Homo sapiens: one gene and its partners. The protein of the gene in region 3 interacts with the protein of the main gene of each other region in a pairwise test. Each region holds a gene or a part of one and is shown on either strand. Other genes may lie near its edges.

Region 1 (3,557 bases), on a different chromosome or scaffold from region 3:
CTGTTAATTGGCTTCCACTGGGACCAAGAATCTCAAACACTTTCACAATGTTATCATGGTCAAGTCTTCTAATAATTTTGATTTCACGTAGAGCATGTTTGACACTCTGGGGATCAGTAAGGACAATTTTCTTGATGGCTACTCTTTTGTCACAGTCATTGTCTACAGCAGAAAAAACCAAGCCATTGCCTCCACAACCCAATGGTTTTAAGTCCATATACCTAGAACCCAGATCAAAACCATGAATGTTCATGAGACTTTCAAATTTCTCTGCCATTTTGAAACCCTTACTATTGCCTTTTCCTTTCAAATTGAACTTGTGTAAACAAGGAAGAAAACTGGCATCAAAAGGAAAGATCTTTCAAAAAGGGAGAAGAAAAATAATTATGCTTCCACAGCAAGATGGTTTCTTGATGTTCATTGCATATGCCAAACAGGCCTGTCGAGTTCCCCTTAGATTTAAAGCTCAAAAAGCTCTATTCATATTGAGAATTAAAAAGATTGCAGTACTCATAGTTCAAGAAAGGGGCAGCAACTCTGCAGACATTTAACGAAAACAAGAAACTCAAACGGAATGAAATGACATACTGTGCACTCAGATTACCGTGCTAAACGATTTAACATTTAACAAAAATGTGAATAAATATGCACACAACAGGCTTCTATGAACATTCTCCTCACAGTGCAGATACATTCAGTGTTGGACTGGTCCTGAGCAGCATCATTCTAAGGTGCTGGTAAGCACTATTTCCGTTTTGCTTCTTTTTTTCCTTTGTTGCTATATATTTATTTCAACAGGAAGCCCTGGCGGCTGTTGGTTAACAGAAGATGTCTTTTGTTAGTGATCAGGTGGCTCCAGCTCACCACAATCACAATCAAAGCTACCGTCCATCTTACTCTGATACAACCTGGGGGGATGAGAAAAAGAAGAGAGTCACCATTGCAGGAAATACTCTTTTCTTCAAATTTGTAGTATGACACAAAGTAGGCATTTAGCAATAAACTACTACTGGTACATTAAACTTAATTATGGTCATTAAGTGACAAATTACCCTTAATCAAAAATAGCTTACAAAAATGTTATCAGCAATTCACACACGTTGGCCCGGGCTCCAGATTTCACTACACTAGATTCTTGGTAACAGGCTCATTAGGTTGTACCATTTCTGAAATGCCAACAAGTATGGGAAGGTTCATAATATTTTTATAGAACTTGAGTTTTGTGAGGGGTAAAACGTTAGTAACATCTATCTAAATATCTAAAAGAATATAGAAGAAGCCTGCAATGTGTTAGTTTGTTAAAAAGCATGTTTACTTATTAACTATGCCTATCAATATCCAATGAACAAAAATCTAACAGCACAAATATGCAAATAATGTTCTTCAACTTATAAGAGTAAACTTGAACAATGAATAATACCTATGAAAAGGTATTTAATGTGACTGATAGGAAAAGATTACCTTAAGAGAACATTTCAGATTGAAAAAACATGCATCTCTGTTAATGTCAAGTCTGAGGAGTGTAGAAAAACAAACTTTCACACAATAGTGGTTGGAGTTTAAATTAGTAAAAACTTCAGAGCAATTTGGCATAAACATATAAATGAATAAATAAATAGCGTACTCTATGACCCGGCCATTTTTCTTCACAGTAAACTCCCTAGAGAAATGCTCATTTTTTTTTGGTAAAGAAAATTAGAAACAACCTCAACTTCATAAAATAGGAGAACAGATAAGTAGTTATATGCATGCAAAATAGTTTTTTTTGGTAAGTACATATGTATATTGCAAAACTAAAAAAAAAAAAAAAAGGAAAAAAAAATGAGACAAATACCAAATTCATAATGATTACCCGGAGATTAAGGAAAGAGACCAGAATCATTTATCTGCGTTTTAATGTGTTATTTATTTTAAAATAACAAACATGGCAGATTACTAGAATCTTATAGAGCTGGGTGGTATGTATATGAAGGTTCATTATATTGATCTCTGTACACTTAAAATATTTCATACTTTAAAAAATATCCTATAAAAGGGCAGGAAAAAATAGCCTCAACTCCAGTAGATGGTTCCCTAGCCAGCCTGGAAAAAAAAAAATGCAACTTGGTTCTTTCAGTTTCTTAATGGCCTAATTGCAGAGTACCCAGAATACCAGATATGAGGCATTATGGAAAATCAGGTGGTCAGAATTCCTAACAAATAAGACCAGACAATATTTTAGGCAGAAAGAATAAAGCCACCAATTTATTCGTTTAATATATAAACATATATTGAGCAACTACTATATGCTAGGCAGGAGCAAACCTGATATGAGCAAAAGGATTCTGGCCCTCAGTAAACGCAACTCATTGTCCAATAGGAGAAAGACAGCTTTAATAAAAACTGATACTTACTATATCCCTCAGTTCTTTTAATAAATAAGAACGGGTCTTGTATCTGCTTAATATCATGAAGGATACTAATAGTATAATAGCTTTATTTTACTGTAACAGAAACGGCTTCTCCTGTCTACAAGTTTTTCTCTGCTTCTCAGAAATCAGCCCTCCTAGCCCGCCCCCCCAAAAAAAAAGTCCTAAAAATTCTGTAGCTTACCAGTCTATCTGTAATAAAACACTTAAAAGTTGAAGTTTGTGAATAAACTTTTGAATTAAAAAAATATCTCAAGGCCGGACACGGTGGCTCACGCCTGTAATCCCAACACTTTGGGAAGCCGAGGCAGGCAGATCACGAAGTCAGGAGTTCAAGACCAGCCTGGCCAATATGGTGAAACCCCGTCTCTACTAAAAATACAAAAAGTAGCCAGGCGTGGTGGCGCATGCCTGTAGTCCCAGCTACTCAGGAGGGTAAGGCTGGATAATCGCTTGAACCAGGTAGGTAGAGGTTGCAGGGAGGTAGAGGTTGCAGTGAGCCGAGATCCTGCCATTGCACTCCAGCCTGGGGGACACAGCGAGACTCTGCCTCAAAAAAAAAAAAAAAAAAAAAAAAAAAAAAAAAATCAAACAACTTAAGTCCAACATATCATTTGCTATTATCTAGCTGAGCCATTAGTCTGTCTTTGGTCTTTAGCCAGTGGATTTTCAATGTTGTTATATGATCTAGCTCATGTGATAGTGGAAATAAGTAATAAAAATAAATTTTTGTGGCCAGGCGCGGTGGCTCACGCCTGTAATCCCAGCACTTTGGGAGGCCAAGGCAGGTGGATCTCCTCAGGTCGTGAGTTCGAGATCAGCCTACCAACATGGAGAAACCCCGTCTCTACTAAAAATACAAAAATCAGCCCAGCGTGGTGATAGGTGCCTGTAATCCCAGCTACTCGGGAGGCTGAGGCAAGAGAATCGCTTGGACCTGGGAGGTGGAGGTTGCAGTGAGGTGAGATCACGCCACTGCACTCCAGCCTGGGCAAAAGAGCAAGATTCCGTCTCAAAAAAAATGAATAAATAAAAAATAAAAATAATTTTTGTATTGGTAAAAAAGTTTCAGATTTTTAAAAAGGGCTTTAATACTGCATGTCTCCCTCCCACCAAGTTTTTTCTGTTTGTACACATCTTGATTCTTCC
Region 2 (3,557 bases), on a different chromosome or scaffold from region 3:
CCATCCCAGGGGGCTCTTCCTGCCTGGCCATCCAGGGGCTGGGTGCCCTGGGCCGGATGTGTCTGGTGGGACTCACTGGCTTCCCTCCCTCTGTTTGCTTCCCAGAGACCTGTGACTGTGAGGGCTACCTCAAAGGGCACTATGTGGGTAAGTAGCTCCCCCTGACACCCACATGCACGACCTGCCCCACCCAAGGCCCCAGAGTTAGGGAGAGGTCAAAGCAGGGTGATCTGAGCCCCAGGAGTCCTTCTGGAGCAGTGGAGCCTATGGGACCCCCATCTCTCCTCAGTTCTCTCAACCCAAGCAGGAGCTGAGCCTGCCCAGGCATTGGGCCCCCACCCAGCTTTTACCCAGCTGTGGGGCACACTGCCCTGGCGGGAAAGGCACACACACCCCTACATTAATACCAATTCTATTATCACCATCATTGCAATTGGAGTTTATTCAATATTAACACCACTACCACGCAGTGAGGGGTGTTTGCGGCTCTCCAGAGCCCCTTTTCACTTGTTTTGGTCAGTTTTTTCAAAGGTCTTAGAGATAGGCAAAAAGTTTTTTTTGTTTTTTGGTTATTTTTTAGAGACAGGGTTTTGCCCTGTCTCTCACGCTGGAGTGCAGTAGTGTGTGACATTGCAGCTTGCAGCAGCCTCAATGTCCTAGGCTCAAACAATCCTCCCACCTCAGCCTCCTGAGTAGCTGGGACTGCAGGCATCTGACACCATGCCCAGCTGATTAAAAAAATTTTTTTTGTAGAGATGGGGTCTCGCTATGTTGCCCAGCTGGTTTCAAGCTCCTGGCTTCAAGCAATCCTCCTTTCTAAAAAGTTTTTAAACTTTTTTTAAACTTATTTTTTGAGATATGGTCTTGCTCTGTTACCCACACTGGAGTGCAGTGGTGTGATCACAAATCGCTGCAGCCTCAGCCTCCCAGGCTCAAGCGATTCTTCCCTCTCAGCCTCCCTAGTAGCTGGGACTACAGGTGCATGCCACTATACCTGGCTAATTTTTGTATTTTTTGTAGAGACAGGGTTTCACCATGTTGCCCAGCTGGTCTTGAACTCCTGAGATCAAGTGATCTGCCTGCCTTGGCCTACCAAAGTGCTGGGATACAGGCATGAGCCACTGCACCCAGCCCCTTAACTTTTGTCCTGAAGTAATTTCAAACTTACTGAAAAGGTGTAAGAATTATACAAAGAACTCTCATATACTCCACACCCAGATTCACCAGTTGCTCCTTTGCCATGTTTGCTCAATTTCCTTTCCCACATCTCTGAATTTTTTTTTCCTGAGTCATATGAGACTTAGTTGTAGACATCGTGTCCCTTTAACCCTAAATCTCTCAGCATGTATTTCCTAAGGCCAAGGACTTTCTCAGGGCAGTGATCAAATTCTGAGAATTTAAAATGTATCCAAATCTGTTATATGCTGTTATTTAAATGTTAACAATTGTCCCCATCATGTCCTTTATGACATTTTCCCTTGGTCCAGGATCTAATCTAGGACCACACATAGTAGTTGTAGATTCATATCTTCATTTCACAGGTAAGGAAATTGAGGCTCAGAGAGATGAAGGGACTTGTCCAAGGTCAGTCACATGCCAAGTAAAACAGTGACCTTAAGCCCTAGTTTGTGAATGCAGGGGTCACCCTTTCATCTTATTATTGTATTTCCTGAACAACCTCTTCCAGTAGCAGGAGGAGGTTGGGAGAAGTCAGTGGGACTCAGTCCCATCTCCAGGTCTGGCCAGGTGGGAAAAGTCTCTACTGGGAGATCCTGGGACAACTGGGACAAATGCCATGGTGTCCCTCTGCCCCTCCTCCCAAGCTGGTCTTCGGAGGAGCTTCCGGCTGGGCTGTAGGGAGAGACTGGGTGGCTCGCAGGAAGGAAAGATGTCCTCCGGAGCTGAGTCTCCGGAGCTGCTGACTTACGAAGAGGTGGCCAGGTACCAACACCAGCCCGGAGAGCGGCCCCGCCTGGTGGTTCTGATCGGTAGGTGCCATCCTGGGTTTCCAGGAAGTGATCTGGTTTCCTCCCTGGAGCAGGTGGGGAGGGAGCTCAGCAGGGACCCTGGTCAGCCTTCTTCTTGTTTCCCAGGGTCTCTGGGAGCCCGACTGCACGAGCTGAAGCAAAAGGTGGTGGCTGAGAACCCACAGCACTTTGGCGTCGCTGTTCCACGTAAGAGGGCCCATGTGGGAGTGTGTGTTTGTCTGCACACACACAAATATTCCATGGAGACTTAACTCCCCAGATCCATCCAAATCCTTACTTTGGGTTTAAAGGATCACCAGGCACTGCCTGCTATTGGCAAATTGTGGGACAAAGGCATGATGGGAAGAAATCCACTCCCAGTGGTCCTCTGAGACCCTCTGAGGCAGAAGTTGGAGGACCACTTGCTTGGTTCCTGCCTGGGGTGGGAGATGAGTCCAGAGCACATTGTAGGCAAAGTGGCAGCCTCAACCTGACACCACGGGGCCCCCACAGTAGGGGGCATTCCTCCTCATCACAGTGAATTTTGACTCCTGTGGCCGCTGCCCTCTGCTTGGATGAGAGGGCAGGTCAGAGAAGCCACAGAGCCCTGTGAGTGGTATTTCTCGGCACTCCCTTATAGCCAGATTCCAGTTTGTCAGGGTAGCTGGGTACATTCCTGGGTGATGCCTCCCCTGCCAATTCCTGGGGCTTACTGCTGCCAGGGGCACCCTGGGATGTCAAGCTCCAGTGGGCAGAGGATCCTGGTTCTGAATGTGATAAGGAGGATGAGGAGGAGGAGAATGAAGGTGCCAGGTAATGCACCAAGAGCTTTTATGTGTAGTGCCCTGCGTCAGCCCTCCCAGTACCCCTGAGAAGAGAGATTGTTATCATCTTGTGTGGCAGAGGAAGACAGTGAGGGTCAGAGAGGTTAAGTAACTTGTCCAATGTCACACAGTTGGTAAGTGGTGGAGCCAGGATTCATACCCAGGCAGCCTGCCCCAGTCATGTTCTTAACGAGGATGCACAATGGCCTCTCACCTGCCGCCTCCCACTTCGTGCCCTTGGCTGCCCCTTTTCTTTCTGGGACTCACTCTCAGTCCCCCTGGCCTCAGAGGGATGCAGTGTGAATGCCTGGTGGCTACTGAGAGGGGTGCTGTGGGGGCCCTAATGGGGCCTCCTCAGAGTGTTCTGGGGCAGAGCAACCATGAAGCCTTGCTTTGATCACACCGCTCTCCCTGGGCCCCTGGGCCCAGCGTCTAGTCTGTGGGTTGTCAGAGCTGTCTTCCACAGCCCAATCTGAAGTGGCAGGGATGTGGGGGAGGTGGTGGCCCTGGGGAGGCCATCCTGGCAGCACACCTGTGATGGACCTGGAGGGCTTCAGGGAGCCACGGCCTTCCAAGTTTCAGGTGGACTGAAACAGGACATGCAGAGGTTGCTCACACACTGATCGTTCAGAACCCCTTGGATCCACCCCCTGGAGAAGAGGTACCTGGATGGTCAGGCCCACCTGCTTCTAGGCACTCCACAGATAGGAGACTTTCCTCCTTTGTTTTAGAAACTGGGGGAGTCAGGGAAGCCTTCCCAGAGGCA
Region 3 (3,557 bases):
TTGAGTCCAGTTCTCTTCACTTCCCCAAAGGTGATTCTTGATCACGCGAGGTCCCTAGATGTTAATAAATACTACTTGAAAAAAAGATTTTAAAAATGAATGGGAATTCTGAACTAAAACCAAAATAAATAGGTTTCTTTACTGTAGAAAATTTTCAGAGCCTTTAATGCACTAATTATGCTTTGTAAACCTCCAGGGAAGCATGTGGTGTTTCTCAAACTTATTTGGCCAGGAAACCTTTTTTCCTGGCCACCTCCACGTGGCCTGGTGTTCTGCAGAAGACCCTCAGGAAAATACCACACTAGGCTGTCTTGCCTCATGTGCCATTTAATATTTTACAAACACCTAAGTCTAATTGCTGCTGGATATTCCATCATATGGCTAAGCCAAAATTTATGTGTCCATTCTTTAATTGTTAGACATTGAGATTGCTTACAGTTTTTCAGCATCATTGATAATTTTCAAAGGAATTCTGGTTACTTTGTAACCATCTCTGATTATTCCCTTAAGAGGTGGAATTGTCAAATCAAAGTATCTGAACATTTGCAAGATTCTTGAAACACATTGTCCAGCTGCTTTCCAGAAAGGTCATGCTCGTTTATTTTCTACCAGCTGCGGGCAGGGTTAATGTCCATCTGCGAAAGCTGAGCAGCCGGAGAAGCTCCAAGAGCCTGAAGAAGGCCGTTCCCGTCTCCCCTGCCACAGGGACCTCCAGCAATTAGAAAACAAATAATCACACACACTAAGGACATAAACAGCTATTTCTTTTGAGGAGACACACTGGGTTTTCACAGTTCCCTGTGCCGTTTCTAAATAATTGAATGACATCTGAAAAATTTCTCAACATTTTAATTTGGTCTTCTAGATGTTTTGCTGGGTAGTCAGGGAAGAAGGGATTTTGAATTGGCATCTGTTGTGCTAATTTTCAAATAACCTTTCAAGGTAAGATGTAAAAATAAAGCTTTATCAGCCTCTTGTGACTGTGAACTTTATTTCCAGAAGAATCTTTTTATGTGAGCATTCCATCAGTCTTATTTCTGACCCCACAGGAATTGAATTATGTCATGTTGAGGACTGAGGCTGATTGTGGTGCTTTTGCTTTCTATTTGTAAGGGGGAAAAGCATAAACATTGTAGACTAGAAGTGATTTATCTTTTTGTCCTCCACCAAGATCACCCTTTGGTCAATGCATTATTGGGTTTTGGAACTGAGACGTGAACTTCTAACTCATTAAAACCCTCAAGTCCCCAGCAATAAAGTCATTTAAGTGGCTTCACCAACAGAGATTTATTTCAAAGCGATTCCATTTGGAGGAAGGAAAGAATGAGTAATGCATTATATACCAAGATCGCTTCAATAATTCATGAGACCTCCATGCCAGTGACCGTTTTAGATTCAGTTCATGGTGTTTTAGCCTAAAGTGAACTCTCTCTGTCTTAGAAGACACCCGCAGTTTGCTCCTCTTTGAGCTTGAGTCCATGAATATCTTTACTTTTGGGAAATAAAGTTTGTATTGACTGCTACTTTGTGCGTTTACATGAACCACTCTTATATGGAGGCTATTTTGAAAAAAATGGGCATTTTGTATAATTGGGGTAAAAGGATACTTAATCTGCGGTCCTTACCCTTTGAAAAGTAGGAATGTTTAAAAAAAATTATTGCTTTTTCCTTCCTTTGGGCAGGAATTCTGATTTTGTTTTTTAAGTGTAAGGAGTAGATTGCCAAATGGTGGGTTAAAAATAGATTTATGGATGCCTAATAATTATGCCAAACACAGTGTTGGGCCGTCAGTGAGTACGGAAAGGCATGCATGGCAAATGTCGCTGTCCCCAAGTGCGTTCTGGAATGGGGGCAGTGGGTGGCGCCGGCCCTTCAGCATCTTCGGCCACCGCACAGTTCAGCTGTGAACTCCTTGGTTCACCCTGAGCTTCGTCCAACCTTCTCCCTTTTCTGAAACCCGCAGAGGCTCCAGAGTCCTTTCTCTTCAGGATGGAGACCTGCATGGAGGGACTGGAGGCAGGGAGGGTGGCCCACTTCCTTTCCACACTATTGTGAGTGCCTCACCAGCATTCCTCAGTGCAGTAACAGGGAAACCTGGGGACTCAGATTTCCAAATACCATCATTTCAGTTTGGCAAGTATTGATCCAATGATGAGTATCGTGGGAAAGAAAATAATAAGTTAGGGTTTTGTCGCTTGCCAGAAAAGCTTCAGGATCCACTTCTCCTTCCTCCCTGCTCTCTCCCCACTGCCCAATAAAAACAGCTGCTTTGTTCAAAACTTAAAAACCATATTATTTAAAACTCATTGTAAAAATTTATGCTATACAGATGCTTGTAAGGAAAATGTAAAAATCGCTGGAAATCCCACCTGTTAAGATTTAGAGGAACCTCGTGTTATTCCTGCTCACAGAGACATACTCCCACATACATTTTACCCTACATTATATTATCATATAATGATAAATTAACCACATAATAAATGATAAATTATATGCTATATGTGCTGTTTTGAGACTATTTCTCATCTAACAGTATGTCAAAGATCTCTTTTCCTATAAATAAAAATCATCATTTTAATGGCTATAGAATATCATTACATACATATATGTATTAATCTGTGCACAAAATAACATAGACTGGGTGGCTTAAACAACACACGTTGATTTCTTACCATTTGGGAGCTGGGAAGTCCAAGATCAAGGTGCTGGCAGATTCAGTGCCTGTGAGGGCCCCCTTTCTGGTATGCAGATACTCGCCTTCTTGCTGTATCTCACATAGGGGCAGGGCAGGGAGAGAAGGGAGATCTGGTCTCCTTCTCTCCTTATAAGGGACTAATCCCATCTGTGACCTCATCTAACCCTAATTACCTCCTAAGGGCCCCACCTCCTAATACCGCCACGTTGGGAGTTAGGGTTTCAATACATGGATTTTAGGGGAGACACAAACATTCAGTTCATAACATTATACCATGAGTCAATTCCCATTTACTCCCATAAACAGCGCAGGGATGTGTCTTCCTGCGTGTGATGGTCACTCCAGTATATATTCCTCTAAGTGGAATTGCTGGGTCAAATGGGACACACATTTCAACTTTTGATTATATTACCAACAGTTGCTTTGAAAGAAGATATTCAGCACATTCCATGTAGAGTATGTGTGCCTCCCTTCCCAAACCCACACCAACACTGAACAGCACAAATCTTTTTACAATTTAATAATTTATAAGTGTCTCCTTATTTTTATTGGTGTTCTTCCGATTCTAATTGAACATGTTTTAAAATATTTGTTGGCAATGTATATGTCTTCTGTGATTTACCTTTATATATATCTTTGTCCATTTTTCTATTAAGCCATCTTTTTCTTATTGACTTTCAAAACCCCTCCAGGATACTATTTTTTTTTTTTTTTTTTTTTTTTTTGAGATAAAGTCTCACTCTGTCTTCCAGGCAGGAGTGCAGTTTTGCAATCTTAGCTCACTGCAACCTCTGCCTCCCGGGTTCTAGCATTTCTCCTGCCTCAGCCTCCCAAGTAGCTGGGATTACAGGCATCTGCCACC

What was found.
Region 1: the proteins of RAB31 (region 3) and MAPK6 interact in a two-hybrid assay, tested with the Homo sapiens proteins (one large-scale study listed by BioGRID and IntAct).
Region 2: the proteins of RAB31 (region 3) and MPP3 interact in a two-hybrid assay, tested with the Homo sapiens proteins (one large-scale study listed by IntAct).

What each region holds. Positions count from the first base shown.
Region 1 is NC_000015.10:52,043,181-52,046,737, reverse strand, and holds part of MAPK6 (mitogen-activated protein kinase 6), read right to left. Parts: intron 2,961-3,557; exon of another isoform or gene 1,074-2,960; intron 909-1,073; 5' UTR 278-908; coding exon 1-277. UniProt on the Homo sapiens protein: Atypical MAPK protein. Phosphorylates microtubule-associated protein 2 (MAP2) and MAPKAPK5.
Region 2 is NC_000017.11:43,812,628-43,816,184, reverse strand, and holds part of MPP3 (MAGUK p55 subfamily member 3), read left to right. Parts: intron 1-105; coding exon 106-147; exon of another isoform or gene 148-605; intron 606-1,541; exon of another isoform or gene 1,542-1,823; coding exon 1,824-1,988; intron 1,989-2,093; coding exon 2,094-2,174; intron 2,175-3,557. UniProt on the Homo sapiens protein: Participates in cell spreading through the phosphoinositide-3-kinase (PI3K) pathway by connecting CADM1 to DLG1 and the regulatory subunit of phosphoinositide-3-kinase (PI3K). Stabilizes HTR2C at the plasma membrane and prevents its desensitization.
Region 3 is NC_000018.10:9,809,296-9,812,852, forward strand, and holds part of RAB31 (ras-related protein Rab-31), read left to right. Parts: intron 1-3,557. UniProt on the Homo sapiens protein: The small GTPases Rab are key regulators of intracellular membrane trafficking, from the formation of transport vesicles to their fusion with membranes.